2 separate regions of the Homo sapiens genome follow, and region 1 is linked to region 2. Evidence: fine-mapped expression QTL. A gene starts in region 2. The other region holds a variant in brackets. All regions are shown on one strand. Distances are between the middles of the regions.

Evidence for each region. PIP is the estimated chance that this variant, and not a neighbour inherited with it, causes the effect.
Region 1: its variant is the best candidate, but not a certain one, in a credible set for the expression of HMOX2 in blood mononuclear cells (TOPMed, PIP 0.79).

What each region holds. Positions count from the first base shown.
Region 1 is chr16:4,493,247-4,502,295 of GRCh38, reverse strand. All of the region lies in intron 1 of HMOX2 (heme oxygenase 2), which reads right to left. It overlaps LOC124903636 (a long non-coding RNA gene), which reads left to right and starts at 6,606. Exons shown (of 3, transcript XR_007064964.1): 1 at 6,606-7,014. RefSeq lists silencers at 1,694-1,988, 8,220-8,409. The variant T/CT (reference allele first, on the strand shown) is at 4,511.
Region 2 is chr16:4,472,143-4,481,191 of GRCh38, reverse strand. It overlaps HMOX2 (heme oxygenase 2), which reads right to left and starts at 4,794. Exons shown (of 6, transcript NM_002134.4): 1 at 4,705-4,794. It overlaps NMRAL1 (NmrA like redox sensor 1), which reads left to right and starts at 6,567. Exons shown (of 6, transcript NM_020677.6): 1 at 6,567-6,638; 2 at 7,026-7,099. The coding sequence starts at 7,060. It overlaps LOC124903636 (a long non-coding RNA gene), which reads left to right. Exons shown (of 3, transcript XR_007064964.1): 3 at 1,631-1,928. RefSeq lists an enhancer at 4,497-4,998.

The DNA of each region.
Region 1 (9,049 bases), 21 kb before region 2:
TGCTCTGGGAGAGTATAGTCTTGCTTAATTAAACAACAAGTCCTTGTGCTTCTCCGAAAAATACAAAAAGGAGCCAGGCACAGTGGTTCGCACCTATAATCCCAGCATTTAGGGAGGCCGAGGTGGGCAGATCACCTGAGGTCAGCAGTTCGAGACCAGCCTGGCCAACATGGTGAAAGCCCATCTCTACTAGAAATACAAAAATGAGCCAGGCATGGTGGTGGGCAATTTTTTGTAATCTGCTGTCCACGACTTCAAATTTTCTACACTCAAAATAGGTTCTACCGATTTTACTTTGAAGGAAAGCTAACAGGAAGAATACTGAGTTCTCAAGGCGGGCTGAAAGTACCAACTACCATCTGTACAGACCTGGGGGCTGGGGGCAGAGGAGGCTCCTGGGAAGGCTCGGTTAGCATATTCAACCCACAGACTGGGGCCAGGGGAGGCGACCCTGTGGCCTAGCCACTGTCCAAGGGAGTGGCCACACAGTGTGGCATTCAGAGGCCACCTTGCAACTGCAGAAACATAATTTTTTTTCACTTTCTGAAAAGCTACATGTCCAGACTTAGTCTGGCTGGTTTCTATACTTGAATGCTCTTTTCTTTGCAGGAACCATTGGAATCTCTAGAAAATTGAGGGCCAAATCATAAATATAGAACCTTTTTAGACTTCAATGTCTAATATCCACAAGAAGCTACATGTTCCCCACCCCCACAAAAGAGAAAAAAAGATCCTAAAATATTCCACTCTGGGAAATACACTTCAAGAAATAGTAATAGTAATTGTAATCTGTATCAAAATAATACCCAGCCATACTATGATGTTAGGAAAAAAACAACACACAGCCTAAGAACAAAGGGCATGACTGCTCAAACAACAGTCAACAATGGAATCCTGGCACAGCCGGGGCAAGTTGATAAGCTGTGTTCATGCATGGAAAAGCCTACAGAAACTTTTTATTTTTTTAAAAAGGATCCCAAACACCGACTATAACTGTGTGCAAAAGTATACTGATAATGACAAGTGGGAAATTTGGAGAGCTATAAATACTTGTTTTTTGTTGGACTTTTTAGCCAACTGGCTGCTTCTTTTATATGGAGTGACTCAATTCTCTTGGAAAGAAAAAGGGAAGAGGGAGGGGAAGGCAGCGAAGGGAAGGGAAAAAAGAAACCGAGAGACAGGAATTGGACCAAGCAAACCAGCTAAGATCCCGCACTGCATTAACTAACTAGTCAATGGAAGCTCCTGGGTCCTCTTTTCTGTTACAAATTCTAGAAAGGCCAGTCTACCCTCTCTCTTTCCCATTTCCAAAAAACTGGGACCCTCTGTTTATAAAATCTACCTCCACTACTCCATAATTCCAGTACTCCTAGCTGTTCACCTCATCAGCTGCTGATTCTCATTCCAACACCTGAGCTAACAGAAGCAGTAACAAAGTTCCTATCACAGTTACTTCAAGCAAAAGAGGTTCCTTTAGACCAGCTCAGCAGATCCAGAACACTGTCTCAAAGCTTTTGCTCCTGCTAAATTGCTGGCATGAGGCACTACCAGGACTTCTGAGACAACGAAGATGGTAAATCCTCCTCCATGGAGACTAAGTCCAACAAATTTCAGGTCAGGTAACTCAGTGCATTGCTACCAGGTGGGAATATAATCTAAGGACTATATTATAATTCATTTCCCATCTGGTCATACAGAAAGGAACAATAAAGACTTCTTTGCCCTGGAGAAACCTGAACTGAAGGAAGAGAGCAGGTTGCTGAGCTCAGCCAGCACCGAGAGTAAGCAACAGCAGACTGACTCACTCCCTGGAATGAGAACAATTCTGCAGGCTTCTGACTCAATGAAATAGTGACACTTGACAGTGACCAGCTACTACACTGCATGAGATGCCCACAACATGAACTCGGGTTGTTACCCCACAAACACAGGGAGGCTAAGTGGCTGCTCAGAGACTTCTGCACTGGGACTCCACGAGTGCTCCCTCCCTGCTGAACACCTTGCAGTTGGGCATCAGGATTCTTACCATCACCCTGGATGGGGGTCCCCTGCCTGCTTCCTAGAAGGCTGTTTGCAGCTCAGAGCTCACTCCGATATAAAATTGCCACCATATTAATATGAGGTGATTACGCTTCAGCTTCCACAACTGACTGTCATCCTGTCTTCCCAGTTAAACCAAAAGCTTCCTACAAGAGAGATCCAGATTCCCTCAGATTCAGATCAGGGTCCAATATGACTTATAGGCCAGCACCCTGGGGAGCATCCAACCTGAGTTACAGCTGTTGCAAATACACAGATGGAGTTCCTACTGAGAAAGCCAGTTAAATAGAGGATTTGTGTGCCTGTGCCTGTGTGTGTAACAAGAAAATAACAGCTAAATTCTAAAATACCAAGTAAAGTAATACAAATTTTTAATTGGGTCCCATGTCTCTAAATTAACTGTATGAAATCTGTTTTGACTTCTCTTCAGATCTGACTTGACTCCTAAGTTTTTAACTGACAATTATATTTATGGGGTACAGTGTGATGTTTGGACACATGTATACATTGGGGAATAATTAAATCAGGGTTATTAACATATCCATCAGCTCACATGCTTATCATTTCTTTGTGGTGACAACTTTTAAAATCCACTCTTTTACCAATTTTGAAGTATACAATACTATTATAATATTAACCATATTAACTATAGTCACCATGCTGTAAGGCAGATCATCAGACCTTATTTCTCCTAACTGAAATTTTGTACCCTTTGATCAACATCTCCCCTTTCCACACCCACCCTTCCCTTCCCCCAGCCGCTGGTAACCAACATGTTACACTCTCCTTCTATAACTGACTTTTTCAGATTTCACATATAAGTGATATCATGCACCATTTGTCTTTCTTTCTTTGGCTTACTTCACTTAGCATAATGTCCTCTAGATGCATCCATGTAGTCACAAATGACAGAATTTCCTTCTTGTTTATGGTTGAGTAGTATTCCATCGTGCATAAATACCAGCTTTTAAAAATCCATTAATCCACTGTGTGCTGCGAAGACTAAGTGGGCTAACACGCATGAATGTTTGACAAAATGCAGCACCACCTCAAATATTGAGCTCTTACTGAGGAAGTCGCTGGTGAGAATGAGCAATTGGGTGATTGTTAAACACTGAGGAAGAACAAGAAATCCAGCAATTTCAGATAGTTCTGGGCAGGTCACACCTGAGGACTTCTGACTCAGACCTCATTCTCCAGCAGCGTCAGGAAATAGGAATATCTGCCCTTTCTAAGGTGAGCCACGTGAGCACTGGAGGCTAGAATACCCACATTGCAGATGCCACTGGAGATTGGCTGAGCCACATGTTTGGGGCAGCAGACAGAGCTCAATCAGTTCTAATCCAACAAGGCACGAGATAACAGAGACTTCTCAACACCCTGAAGAAGCCACATCATCTAGAACTACAGCTTCTGAGTTTATAGAATAAATGGCCTGAGGTCTCCTCTGAACTCTGGTACTACCATTCCTCAGGAAATGTTATACATAAGCCCTTTCATTTCAATCGCTGGGGGAATTCAATCCCACGGTTCACTGAACGGAAGAATAAATATTAACCTCTTGATAAAAGAGCAAATCCAGGCTGGGTGCAGTGGCTCACACCTATAATCCTGACACTTTGGGAGGCCAAGGTGGGAGGATCACCTAAGCCTAGGAGCTCAAGACTAGCCTGGGCAACACAGTCAGACCTTGTCTCTACGAAAAATAAAATAATTAGCCAGGCGTGGTGACACACACCTGTAGTCCCAACCACTCGGGAAACTGGGGCAAGAGGATCTTTTGACCCCAGGAGTTCAAGGATGCAGTGAACTATGATCACACCGTTGCACTCCAGCCTGGCAAGGGAGTGAGATGCAAAAAAAAAAAAAGAGCAAGTTAAGACTGAATCCAGCCGGGTGTGGTGGCTCATGTCTGTAATCCCAGCACTTTGGGAGGCCGAGCGGGTAGATCACCTGAGGTCAGGCATTCAAGACCAGCCTGGCCAACATGGCAAAACCCCATCTCTACTAAAAATATAAAAAAATTAGCCAGGTGTGGTGGTGTGTGACTCTAATCCCAAATACTTGGGAGGCTGAGGCACGAGAATTTCTGGAACCTAGGAGGTGGAGGTTGCAGTGAGCCGACAGTGCCACTGCGCTCCAGCCTGCACAACAGAGCAAGACTGTGTCTCAAAAAAAAAAAAAAAAAAAAAAAGACAATGAATCCTGGAAAAGTGGGGACTCTGGGGACACAAAGCACTTGAGTCAGATTACTAAATAAGCACTTGCGCATTTGGGCAAGAAGGCAGGCAAAAGCAAAACAACTGCAAACTAATTTAAAGGCATTAACCTCTTAAGTAACCTCAAAAACTGACAAGAGACCGGTTGTGGTAGCTCAAGCCTGTAATCTCTGCACTTTGGAACTCTGAGGCAGAAGGATCACTTGTGGCCAGGAGTTCAACACCATCCTGGGCAACAAAGTGAGACCCCC[T/CT]CCATCTCAAAAAATACATTGAATAAAAAAGACAACTGAATAGCAGTTCAAGAAGTCCAAGACTTTTCTTGCAGGCTTTTTTACTGGAGAAGAGAAGTGTGCTCATCTCTAGCCATGTTCAAATACAACTGAGCAAGCAGTGAAGACAGACACCAAGGACAGAACCTGAGACACTGAAATGAGTTCAAAGAAGGGGCCTGGAATCGACTATTGTTGGGACAATGATGAGTCCTGGTAGAGCCTTCCTATTATAACTGAAATAAGCACAAGACTCGCCCCTGTTCCCTGATTGCCACCTCGCTTTATATGAGGACAATGTGTCCCAGGGCTGAGAAGATGAGGATTCTTTAGTTCCATAAGCAGCACCAGGAGCGGGAGGGGTGAAGTCCTGAGTGAATTCTAAAATGGTTCTGGTGGGATTTTTACAGGGACAGAGGCTAGACTTCATGCATCCCACAGGGCTGGCTTTAACTAATGAAACCTTGGGTCATCCCTAGGTTACCATCAAGCAAAAATTATTCCAACACTGAACAACCTTGAAAGCAGGTGTCGTGTGGATAAGTGGAGTCAGTCATGTTTCCTTTCATACAGGCACAAAAATTGTCACCTGTAAGCTTCAGCTTCTATCATAAACAAGGACTGTGAATAGCATTTGGGGGTGGAGGGAAAAAAAGTAGGTGATTAAGATGCATATGCAGAACTGTCATTTTGGGAAACCTGAGAGTGCCATCAGCTCCCAGGTGCTTTCCTCTCTATAAACAGCCTGAAGCCTTAGAAGCCATTCCTGGAGGCTGGTACTGGTAGCTCACACCTATAATCTCTGTACTTTGGGAGGCCGAGGCTGAAGGATCACTTGAGTCCAGGAGTTTGAGACCAGCCTAGGAAACATAGTGAGACCCCCCGTCTCTACAAAAAAAAAAATAATAATAAAATAATTTTTTTTTAAAAGAAGCCATTCCTGCCTTGGCAGAAGGCCCTCAAGTTCACCCAAGAGAGCACCAGACTATAAGTCTGACAGACCTGGGTATACCAGGCTAAGTCACTTTCAAGCAATGTCTCACTGGCTCTGAAGAAACTAAGATCAAGAGAATTAACATGGGCAAGATCACTCAGAGAGCTAATGGTCAAGTTGAGACTAAACTTGAGTCATTCTGAATGCAAGGTGACTCCTCCTGTGTCCCTGGCTAATCCTCATTGGTTCCTGCATGTGAGATTAGTATAGTGTCACCACAGACTGCTAGCAACAAGGAAACTGAAGTTATGGGCTACAGAGGCACTCGTACCACACTGCATTTATGCATGCAGTAGAGAGGTTAAACTACAGCCTGTAATTTGTTGTTTTAGTATGAAAAGTGAGCAAGAGGCCAGGCATGGTGACTCACACCTATAATCCCAGCTCTTTGGGAGGCCGAGGCGGGCAGATCACTTGAGGTCAGGAGTTCGAGAGCAGCCTGGCCAACATGGTGAGACCCCAACTCTACTAAAAATAGAATTATTAGCCAGGCGTGGTGGCGCACACCTGTAATCCCAGCTACACAGGAGGCTGAGGCAGGAGAATCTCTTGAACCCAGGAGGTGGAGGCTGCAATGAGCTAGACTGATCCACTGCACTCCAGCCTGGGCAACAGAGCGAGACTCCATCTAAAAAAAAAAAAAAAAAGAAAGAAAAGTGAGCAAGATTCTATTATTTCTGAGAAATAAGTGCTCAGGCCCAGTTGAAGATTCCGAAGTTGATGCTGCTTGTCCCTAAAACACTCACCTTGGCTCACTCAAATTACACAACAACCTGAGAAGATTGTTCCCTGGTGAGATCTATTTTTGATGACTAACAGGGCAGGCCAAGGCTGGTTCCAGCAGGGGAGGATGGCATACCCCACCACTCAGTGCCTGAAAAGAGGCAATCAGACCTGCCAGACCTTAGTGGACAATGAAGCCAGGGGCTCCAGAGCATCCCTATACCAAAGGGAGGTCACAATAGGGTCTGCACATCTCTATAGCACCCACTGCCATAGTAACTGAAGAGAAATAGACTAAACTGTGTCAAGCATGTATTGAGTATTTAAAATCTAAGCAGTTCTATCTTTCTGCCTACTGAAATATATTGTGCCTCAGAAATGGTAGTGCAATGGATAGAAAGTATGTTAACATAAACTTCCTGTAAAATTAGTAACTCCATAGGACAAGCCTTTGGTCAATCGAACAAGGTGGCTCCAATTTCTCACTCTGGGCCTGCAAGGTATCTTTACACGTTTCCACAGGCCTATAGAGTAAGGTATTATTCCTAGGCTTCTTCACAATGACTGCCCAGATTCTGGTGGGGACTGAAATTGGGGAAAGGAACAAGCCCAGACCAAGAACCAGTAACTCCACATATGGTTGGCTCATCCTACATAGACTGTGCCTATGGTGGGACAGAACTAGCAGCAGCAGCTATTGGACTTGCTCAAAGAAGGATGGTCGGCTTTCCCAGCACTACCAGCAGGCCCTGCCTACACCCAAAGAGTGGTAAGGGGAATGGAATCTGCTTCCTTCTTATCCTCTGACTCACTATCTTAATGCACAAGGCACCAAGAGTGCCTAAAAAAAGGAGGTCCTCAACTGTTTTCCTCCCTTAGTATATAGGGCCTGATTTGCACATGAATGACAACGTCCCATAGGACTAGTCGGGCAGAGTGTCCAGAAAATATATTGCAGATGATGTGAAATTACTAGCAATTAGCTGTAAATGCAGCCCTCTCTTCTACTCTAAACAACTTCTCAGAATGAGAGCCAACTTACAGGGATAATGTTTAACCCAATCAAACCGAGACTGGTCTTGACCTCCTAGCCTCAACAATCCTCCCACTTTGGCCTCCCAAAGTGCTGTGATTACAGGTATGAACCACCATGCCTGGCCAAACTTTTTTTTTTTAGACAGTCTCACTTTTTCACGCAGGCTGGAGTGCAGTGGTGTGATCATAGCTCACTGCAGCCTGGATTTCCCAGGCTCAAGTGATCCTCCTGCTTCAGCCCCCAAAGCAGCTGGGACTACAGGCACACGCCACCACACCTGGCTAATTTTTGTATTTTTAGTAAAGACAGGGTTTCACCATGTTGTCCAGGCTGGTCTCAAACTCCTGGACTCAAGCGATCTGCCTGCCTCAGCCTCCCAAAATGCTGGGAATACAAGCATGAGCCACTGCACCCCACCCAAACTTATTTTTTTAAAGGCAAAGCATTCATCAACTTCATGGTTAGTAACAAATTGTTTGGAACACATCTCATAACCACACTTAAAGAGCAGAAAATCTAAGTGACACAGTGATTACTTAGCAAAATGTACACTAGCTTTCTAGGAAAGCTTTCTAGACACTCCAGCTCTTCAAAGAAACCTTTCAGGATTGGAGCGAAGAGAAAACAGATCACCATGCATTACCCTGCCCAGTCAATGTGTTAAATTTTCATAGCCTTGTTTTCTTTTTTTTTTTTTTTGTGGCAGAGTCTCACTCTGTCGCCCAGACTGGAGTGCAGTGGTGCTATCTCGGCTCACTGCAAGCTCCACCTCCCGGGTTCATGCCATTCTCCTGCCTCAGCCTCCTGAGTAGCTGAGACTACAGGCGCCCACCACCACGCCCCGCTAATTTTTTGTATTTTTAGTAGATACGGGGTTTCACCGTGTTAGCCAGGATGGTCTCGATCTCCTGACCTCGTGATCCACCCGCCTCGGCCTCCCAAAGTGCTGGGATTACAGGCGTGAGCCACAGTGCCGGCCCGACAGCCATGTTTTCTAGTTTCCTCACCAGTATGTAACTCCCCAGACACAGCCTCCCATCACAACTGTCACTTGGCTGTAACTCACTAACTGTATAAATGGCATATGTGACTATTAATTTAGATAAATATTTAAATATTTGTATTTCTGTATGTATTATATGATAAGAAGACTGAATCCCTCCATCTGAATGAAAGTTTGTAGAAATTGGGTTCAACAAGTGTAATAGCAGGCATATGCACAGAAGTCCTTTCTGCACAGCACAATACTAATGTGTTCAAAAGACACACGAGGAGCTGGGGCAGTGGACTGGATTTTACAATGATCTCTAGAGCCTGAGCCATAGTAGGCACCCAACAAATGTTAATTAAGATGAGCCTAGCCATGAGAGAATCTACTGGCCACACAGAGGCCAAGAGGCAGCACATAGATGTGGTTAAGGCACAGGCTGTAGAAAGGCACAACCAAGAGCAAACCCTGGTTCTGCCCATCCCAGTTGGGTGGACTTGGGCCAGCTACTTAATTTCTTGGAGTTTCTTTCTTCATCTGTAAAGGACAGTGATAACAATTCCACAAGGTGGGTATGAGAATTAAATGAGATAAATGAGTTATAAAACTGTGACATCATATGGTGCTGATTAATAAACTAAAGAATATGTCACTTGCAATTTAAAATTAATGGCTGAGCCCAGTGGCTCATGTCTGTAATCCCAGCACTTTGAGAAGCCAAGGCAGGAGGATTGCTTGAGCCTAGGAGTTTGAGACTGACCTGGGCAACACAGGGAGACC
Region 2 (9,049 bases):
GTATTTTTTAGTAGAGACGGGGTTTCACCGTGTTAGCCAGCATGGTCTCGATCTCCTGACCTCGTGATCCGCCCGCCTCCGCCTCCCAAAGTGCTGGGATTACAGGTGCGAGCCACCGCGCCCGGACCAGATTGTTTTAATCACACTAGTACCTTCTTGCAGCCTCAGCACAGTGCTTTAATAGTAGGCCCTCTATCTCAGACATGAAAACATGAGCAAAAGCAAAAATACGAGGCCTGGCCGGGCGCGGTGGCTCACGCCTGTAATCCCAATGCTTTGGGAGGCCGAGGTAGGTGGATCACCTGACATCAGAAGTTTGAGACCAGCCTGACTAACATGGTGAAACCCCGTCTCTACTAAAAATACAAAAAATTAGCCAGGCGTGGTGGCAGACGCCTATAATCCCAGCTTCTCCAGAGGCTGAGGCAGGAGAATCGCTTAAACCTGGGAGGTGGAAGTTGCAGTGAACCAAGGTCACACCACTGCACTCCAGCCTGGGTGACAAGAGTGAAACTCTGTCTCAAAAAAAAAAAAAAAAAATAGTAGGCCCTTAGCCGGGCACGGTCGCTCCACCTCTAATTCTAATTGGGAGGCCAAAGTGGGTGGACCACTTGAGGTCAGGAGTTTGAGACCAGCCTGGCCAGCATGGTGAAACCCCGTCTCTACTAAAAATACAAAAATTAACTGGGTGTGGTGGCACACACCTGTAATCCCAGCTACTAGGGAGGCTGAGGAAGGAGAATCACTTGAACCCAGGAGGCAGAGGTTGCAGTGAGCCGAGACGGCGCCACTGCACTCCAGCCCTGGTGACAGAGCAAGACTCTAAGGAAAAAAAAAAAAAAAAGGCCGGGTGCTGTGGCTCACGCCTGTAATACTAGCACTTTGGGAGGCCAAGGAGGGTGGTTCGCTTGAGGTCAGGAGCTGGAGACCAGCGTGGCCAACATGGCGAAACCCCATCTCTACCAAAAGTACAAAAATTAGCCAGGCATGGTGGTGCATGCCTGTAGTCCCAGTTACTTGGAAGGCTGAGGCAGGAGAACTGCTTGAACCCCAGAGGCAGAGATTGCAGTGAGCTCAGATCAGATCACTGTACTCCAGCCTGGGTGAAAGAGCCAGACTCTGTTTCAAAAAAATAAAAAATAAAAAATAAAAAAGCCGGGCGCAGCGACTCATGCCTATAACCCCAGCACTTTGGGAGGCCAAGGTGGACGGATCACCTGAGGTCAGGAGTAGGAGACCAGCCCGGCCAACATAGTGAAACCTCATCTCTACTAAAAATACAAAAATTAGCCAGGCATGGTGGCATACGCCTGTAATCCCAGCTACTCAGGAGACTGAGGCTGGAGAATCGCTTGAACCCAGGAGGCGGAGGTTGCAGTGAGCTGAGATTGTGCCACCACACTCCAGCCTGGGTGACAGAGCAAGACTGTCTCAAAAAAAAAAAAAAAAAAAAAAAAAAAAAAAATAGAATAAGAAAAAGGCAGGCTGGGTACAAGATACTAGTCTGTTATGCCATTCTTCCCCACAGCCTTTTTAAAGTTACTGAGAACTATGACAGTAATTAGGCCTATAATACTCCTGGGAAGGAAACGAATCTATCTGTGAAACAAAAATTAATTTTTTCCCTAAGCTGAGTGAAGAGAATATCCACTTTGTTGGCTTCTGACATACACACTGACAGCACAGTTCACCAGACAACAATCACTCTTCTGGCGTCCCTTTCCCCAGGTATTCTATTCGCTTACTGCTCTATCTTCCCTGCCAGTCCACTCCCTCCTCTTTCCAGCCTGTGCCTTAGACAAGGACCCCAAACAAGGATCACCTGGGAAACTCCAAAAAACAGATTCCTAGTCATAATCCCAATTTTACCAAAAAAGAAGCGTTTGGAAACCCCTTAGATCGACAAGCAGCATCCAAAGACACCAAAAACTTAGGCTCATCAAGTATTAACTTCCTGCCTCAGCCTCCCAAGTAGCTGAGATTACAGGTATGTGCTAGCATCCTACTTATTGTTCACTCTGATAGAATTTTTTTTTCTTTGAGATGAAGTTTTGCTCTTGTCGCCCAGGCTGGAGTGCAATGGCATGATCTTGGCTCACTGAAACCTCTGCCTCCCAGGTTCAAGCAATTCTCCTTGCTCAGCCTCCCGAGTAGCTGGGATTACAGGCTACTTTTTGCAAGGCTAATTTTTGTATTTTTAGTAGAGACGGGGTTTCACAATGTTAGCCAGGCTGGTCTCGAACTCCTGACCTCAGGTGATCCACCCGCCTTGGTCTCCCAAAGTGCTGGGATTACAGGCGTGAGCCACCGCACCCAGTCTAGGTCAAGTTTTTCATCTCTTTCCTTTCCAAGGAGTTAAAGCTGAATTTCAAATTTTACAGTGAAATACACAATTCTAATTTTCTTTCTTTCTTTTTTTTTTTTTTGAGATGCAGTTTTGCTCCTGTTGCCCAGGCTGGAATGCAGTGGCACAATCTTGGCTCATCGCAACCTCTGCCTCCCAGGTTCAAGTGATTCTCCTGCCTCGGCCTCCCAAGTAGCTCGGATTACAGGCACACACCACCATGCCCAGCTAATTTTTGTATTATTATTATTTTTTTCTTAGTAGAGATGGGGTTTTTCCATGTTGGTCAGGCTGGTCTCTATCTCCCGACCTCAGGTGATCCGCCCATCTCGGCCTCCCAAAGTGCTGGGATCACAAGCATGAGCCACTGCACCGGGCCCACAATTCTAATTTTCAAATATATCTTCCTCCTGGAGGAGTGATATTCCAGTTTTGGGTGCAATCCTGATGTAGAGCCCAACTGTCCTGTGAAGAGAGTCAGCTGTTAAAAGGAAACCAAAAAATCAAGGTAGCTCTAGCTGTCCAATTTTACAAGTTTTCAACAGACTTGATGAGGGGTGAGCTAAAGGCGGTCAATGCTTTATTGTCTGTAACTCACTGGCACTGGCATTTCTAGAGTTGCTCACGTTCCCCCTTTTGGTGACTCACAGCACTTCAACATGTTGCCACAGCCAAGGAAAAAAGGAAATCAAGTCAGACAATGGAGGAATCACAGGATTTCCCTCTTCACATCCCCAGGTAGATGAGGTCATTCAATGAGTGTGTTTCCAAGGCTCCACAAATTCCCACACCCTCACCAGTGTTTAAACCTGAATGTTTTATCTGATAACTTTTTCTAATTTCACCAAGTAAGCTTATATATGTCTTAACTGTGAACTCCTGATAAGCACAAATTTTGTCTTGTGATAATTTATTTTTTTCTTTTTTGAGACAGGGTCTCACTCTGTCACCCAGGCTGGAGTGCAGTGATGCGATCTCAGCTCACTGCAATCTCCACTTCGTGGGCTCAAGTGATCCTCCAACCTCAAACTCCCCAGTAGCTGGGATTACAGACACGCGCCACCCCGCCCGTTTAACTTTTTTGTATTTTTAGTAGAGACGGGGTTTCACCATGTTGGCCAGGCTGATCTCGAACTCCTGACCTCAGGTGATCCGCCTGCCTCGGCCTCCCAAAGTGCTGGGATTACAGGAGTGAGCCACTGCACCGGCCAGCGTTTCTTTCTTCAATCACACTCCACCTTGTCTGGTTTGTAGCGCCATCAACAAAACACAGTACGTAAGGATGGACAGCCACAGGCCACGACAACCGGCTCATCAGAAGCGATTTTTTTTTTTTTTTTTTTTTTTTTTAGATGGAGTCTTGCTCTGTCGCCCAGGCTGGAGTGCAATGGCGTGATCTCGGCTCACTGCAACCTCTGCCTCCCGGGTTCAAGCGATTCTCCTGCCTCAGCCTCCTAAGTAGCTGGAGCTACAGGCTCACGTTACCATGCCCGGCTGATTTTTGTATTTTTAGTAGAGACGGGGTTTCACTATGTTGGCCAGGCTGGTCTCGGACTCCTGACCTCAAGCAATCCGCCCGCCCTGGCCTCCCAAAGTGCTGGAATTACAGGCGTGAGCCACCGACCCGGCCCAGACGCGATTTAAATGGCATGACACAGGCAGGCCTCGTGCAAAGACTGCAAGGAGGTCCCGGCAGCTTTTGCAGGGCAATTAATCCACCCAGAGCACTGCGCTCAGAAAGTAATAGGTAAACCCGCGTCCGGACTAACCGGCTGCCCCCACACTTGATCCCTCCCAGTCCGACTCTGCTCCAGGGCGTACCAGGGTTCACTCGTGAAGTCACGACACCCACTCAAGGGGCACTTCCTATAGAGATAAGGGCATTAGAGGAAGGGCAGAGCCCCGGTCAATGCCAACAGCCCGGGAAACAGCCAAGCCGGGCTCCAATCTCTGCCGGCATCCCCTGTCTGCACCGCCGACGCCCCCAGCTACGACCCCGGGGGTCACCTCGCCCAGCATAGCCGTGACGCTGGGAGAGGGTGGGCCCAACGGGGACGCCAAAGAGAGCCATTCAGGCCTCCCCGCGCCCCCGGGGAGACGACTTCTGGAGAGCGGCGTCCGCGGTTTCGCCCTCCCCTGACAGCCCCTCCACGCCCTTCTTCGTCCTTCTGCCCGGCCTCACCCAGCTTCCGGCCGCCCCCGGCCGGGTCTCCCCTCAGACCGGCGCAGGGGACCCAAAGGGCTGTGGCCCGGCCAAGCCCAGGTCCGAAGGCCTGGACCGAGGCAGGGCCCGCGAAGGACGCAGCGCGGTCCGAGAAGCCGGGCGGAAGGAAGGCCCCGGGAGGGCGCGGACAGCTCACCTGCCGCAGGTCGCTGTCGCCTGTCCGCCAGCCTCCAGTCAGCGTGCCCGTCAGCGACTCCCTCAGGCGCCGCAGTCCCTGCAGCCCAGCGGACTGGCGCGAGGCCGGCGCAACGTGGGCACGCAGCGCGGGGCGGGGCCTAGAGATGACACGCCCCTTGTAGCTGACACGCCCTTGCCGGGGGCGGGAAGCGGAGTATGTGGCTTTCCCCAGGTCTCTGGAGGTTGCAGGCTCAGGCTCTGCTCAGCGGGGTAAGTAGGCGTGCTTCGGCAGGAACACTAGTGTTCACAAGAGCCGAGGTGTGTGAGGGTGCCTCAGGGTTGAGCACTTTTCTTCCCCAGTGTGGTTTAATCCTTGTACATCCACTCAGTGATGTAAGAAATAGGGTTGTCAACCGTGGCACCACCCACTTGGTCACTTGCCAATGCAATCTGCGAAACTGAGTCTCAACTCTGACACCTCGGTTACCAGTCTTGTATCTGATCTCCCTGTTGCATTATTCGCATTCTTCAAACAGCGGCCAGAATGACAGAATGATTTTTCTTTTTTTGAGACCGAGTTTTGCTCGTCGCCCAGGCTGGAGTGCAATGACGTGATCTCGGCTCACTGCAACCCCCTTCTCCCGGGTTCAAGCGATTCTCCTGCCTTAACCTCCCGAATAGCTGGGATTACAAGCGCCTGCCACCACGCCCGGCTAATTTTTGTATTTTTAGTAGAGACGGGGGTTTCACCATGTTGGCCAGGCTGGTCTCGAACTCCTGAGCTCAGGTGATCCACCCGCCTCGGCCTCCCAAATCACTGCAATTACAGGCCACCGCACCCAGCCCAGAGTCATTTTTTAGTTTTACTGAACACAAAGAAATTACTGAAATCGTGGGCCGGGTGTGGTGGCTCATGTCTGTAATCCCAGCACTTTGGGAGCCTGAGGCGGGAAGATCACTTGAGGTCAGCAGTTCGAGACCAGCCTGGCCAGCATGTTGAAACCCCGTCTCTACCAAAAATACAAAAAAATTTTAGCCGGGCATGGTGGCTCCTGCCTGTAATCCCAGCTACTCAGGAAACTGAGGCAGGAGAATCACTTGAACCCAAGAGGCGGAAGTTGCAGTGAGCCAAGATCGCACCACCACTGCACTCCAGCCTGGGCCACAGAGCAAGACTCCACCTTGAAAACAAAAAACAAAAACAAAAAAAAACTGAAATCAGTGCAAGTAGCAGCAACTTCAGAAGTGAGTTAGGGCTGGGCACGGTGGCTCCCACCTGTACTCCCAGCACTTTGGGAGGCTGAGGTGGGTGGATCACTTTAAGTCAGGAGTTCGAGACCTGCCTGGTCAACCTGGTGAAACCCCGTCTCTACTAAAAAATACAAAAATTAGCCGGGCTTGGTGGCACATGCTTGTAATCCCAGCTACTCGGGAGGCTGAGGCAGGAGAATCTCTTGAACCCGGGGGGCGGAGGTTGCAGTAAGCCGAGATCGCGCCACTGCACACCAGCCTGGGCGACGGACCAAGACACTGTCTCAAAAAAATAAAAATAATAAAATTTTAAAAGTGAGTTAGGCAAAGAAAATATCAAGCGGACAAGGCCTCAAGGGATAAGACTCATGGACATAGCTTTAATTATCTTTGCCTGACGCCCAATACCTGAAAATTAAGATGTTCATGCAAGATAAAGAGGTAATTTTTCTCCTCCTCCCAGTCATCACCCGTAGCATCCGGTTAAGAGGCTCTCCACCTCGCTCATTTTGGTCTAACTGGATTTACACAAACTCACTGTGCACGTGCCTGGGGCGGGCAAACCCGGAAACGACGCCGAGTCCCGCGGGATCCAGGAGGAGCCAACTGCGCCGGAGGAGGGGTTTCGGCCGACACGTCGGGATTGGCGGCTGCAGCCAGGGGTCCTCCGACGCTGGGCTTCCGTGAGCGGCGCTCTGCCAGGTGGGGCCGGAGCTGCGGGGAGGGAGTTGGCGCCTAGCGCGCAGCTCCATCCCCGCCTCTGCAGTGGACTCGGCCGCAGAATCGGGGTCCCGGGCTCCTGGAACTTGTCCCGCCCAGGCCGCGGCGAGGAGGTCACTCCAGCCGGTGGGACCCGGGCCGGGGGGCGGGTGACTGGAACCGGGGGAGGCGGGAAGGAGGAGGGGATCGGGCCCAAGGGACACGAGGTGGGTCGCGGGACCCCGATATCTCGGGACAGGCGTCTTGCCGCTCCGGGCCCAGCCGCCCCCTTCGACACATACTCGATGCATAGACAATGGGGGTGTCCTTTGTCGCTCCTGGCGGGAACCCCGGCCCCACCCCCAACTCCACGCCTCCCATTACCCCCAGATCTCTGGACCGGATTCGTCCCATTCTCGTCCTCATGGTGGACAAGAAACTGGTGGTGGTTTTCGGAGGCACAGGTGAGCCAAACCCCAGACTGGGGCCCTTGCAGAGCCAGGGCGCCTAGCCCTGAAGACCGCCCGTCCTGGGGTCTGCAGGGAGGGGTAAGGTCACTGGGACCCCCGACCCAGGTTGGGGCTGTGGTCGCAGGAACGAGGCCCAAATTGCTTTCCAATTTTTTTTTTTTTGGACGGAGTTTTGCTCTGTCACCCAGGCTGCAGTGCGATGGCACGATCTCGGCTCATTGCAACCTTTGCCTCCCGGGTTGAAGCGATTCTCCTGTCTCAGCCTCCCGAGTAGCTGGGATTACAAGGGCATGCCACCACGCCCGGCTAATTTTTGTATTTTTAGTAGAGACGGGGTTTCATCATATTGGTCAGGCTGGTCTCAAACTCCTGACCTCAGGTGATGACCCGCCTCGGCCTCCCAAAGTGCAGGTATTACAGGCATGAACCACCACGCCAGACCTGCTTTCCAAATTAAAAAAAAATGAGTTACTTAACTTATTTGAATAGGAGTACTTGAACATGATACCAAAATTAAATCTTCTTCCTAGCCTCCTCTTCCACCTCATCTATTGCTGTTACCAAGTTTCTTGAATATCCTGCCAGAGTAGATAACATGTTATCATTTTTTCAAATGATAGCATATTATTTCATTCCTATTTTTTCTTATTTATACATATTTAATATCTCTAACAGCTTTATTGAGATATAATTCACGTACTATACAATCTACCTGTTTAAAGTGTGCAACTCACTGGTTTCTAGTGTATTCATAGAATTGTACAACCATCACCACAATCAATTTTAGAAAATTTCCATCACTCCAAAAAGAAACTCTGGCCCAGGTGCAGTGGCTCAACCCTGTAATCCCAGCACTTTAGTTGGACCAAATGGGCAGATCGCTTGAGCTGAGGTGTTTGAGACCAGCCTGAACAACAGGGCAAAATCTCGTCTCTACAAAAAAATACAAAAATTAGTGGGGCGTGGTGTCATGCACCTATAGCTACCTAGGAGGTTGAGGTGGGAGGATCACCTGAGTCCAGCAGGTCAAGGCTGCAGTGACCTGATTGTGCCACTGCACTCCAGCCTGGGCAACAGAGTGAGACCTGATCTCAAAAAAAAAAAAAAAAAAAAGAACTCCATGAACCCGTGAACAGTTACTCCCCATTCTTACTCCTCCCAGCCAACCCCTAGAAAGCTCCAATCTACTTTTGGTTTCTATGGATTTGTCTATTCGGGACATTTCATATGAATAAAATCATAATATGTAGCCTTTTCTCTCTGGCTTCTTCAGTTAGCATGTTTTCAAGGTTTGTTCATGTTGTAGTGTGTGTCCGGGCTTTACTCTTTTTTTTTTTTTTTTTGAGACAGAGTCCCGCTCTGTTGCCCAGGCAGCAGTGCAGTGGCGTGATCTCTGCTCACTGCAACTTCTGCCACTCGGGTTCAAGCGATTCTCCTGTCTCACCCTCCTGAGTAGCAGGGACTACAGGCGTGAGCCACCATGCCTGGCTAATTTTTGTATTTTTAATAGAGATGGGGTTTTGCCATGTGGCCAGGCTGGTCTCAAACTCCTGACCTCAGGTGATCTGCCCACTTCAGCTTCCTAAAGTGCTGGGATTAGAGGCTTGAGCCACCGCGCCCGGCCAACTTTACTTTTTTATTTTTAAGACAGAGTTTCTCTCTTGTTGCCCAGGCTGGAGTGCAATGGTGTGATCTCTGCTCGCTGCAACCTCTGCCTCCCGGGTTCAAGCAATTCTCCTGCCTCAGCCTCCCAAGTAGCTGGGATTACAGGTGTGCACCACCACACCCAGCTAATTTTGTATTTTTTAGTAGAGACGGGGTTTCACCATGTTGGTCAGGCTGGTCTCGAACTCCTGACAGCTTTACTTATTTTTATGGCTGAGTAATATTCCACCGTATGGATAGACTATATTCTGTTTGTCCATTCGTCAGTGGATGGATACT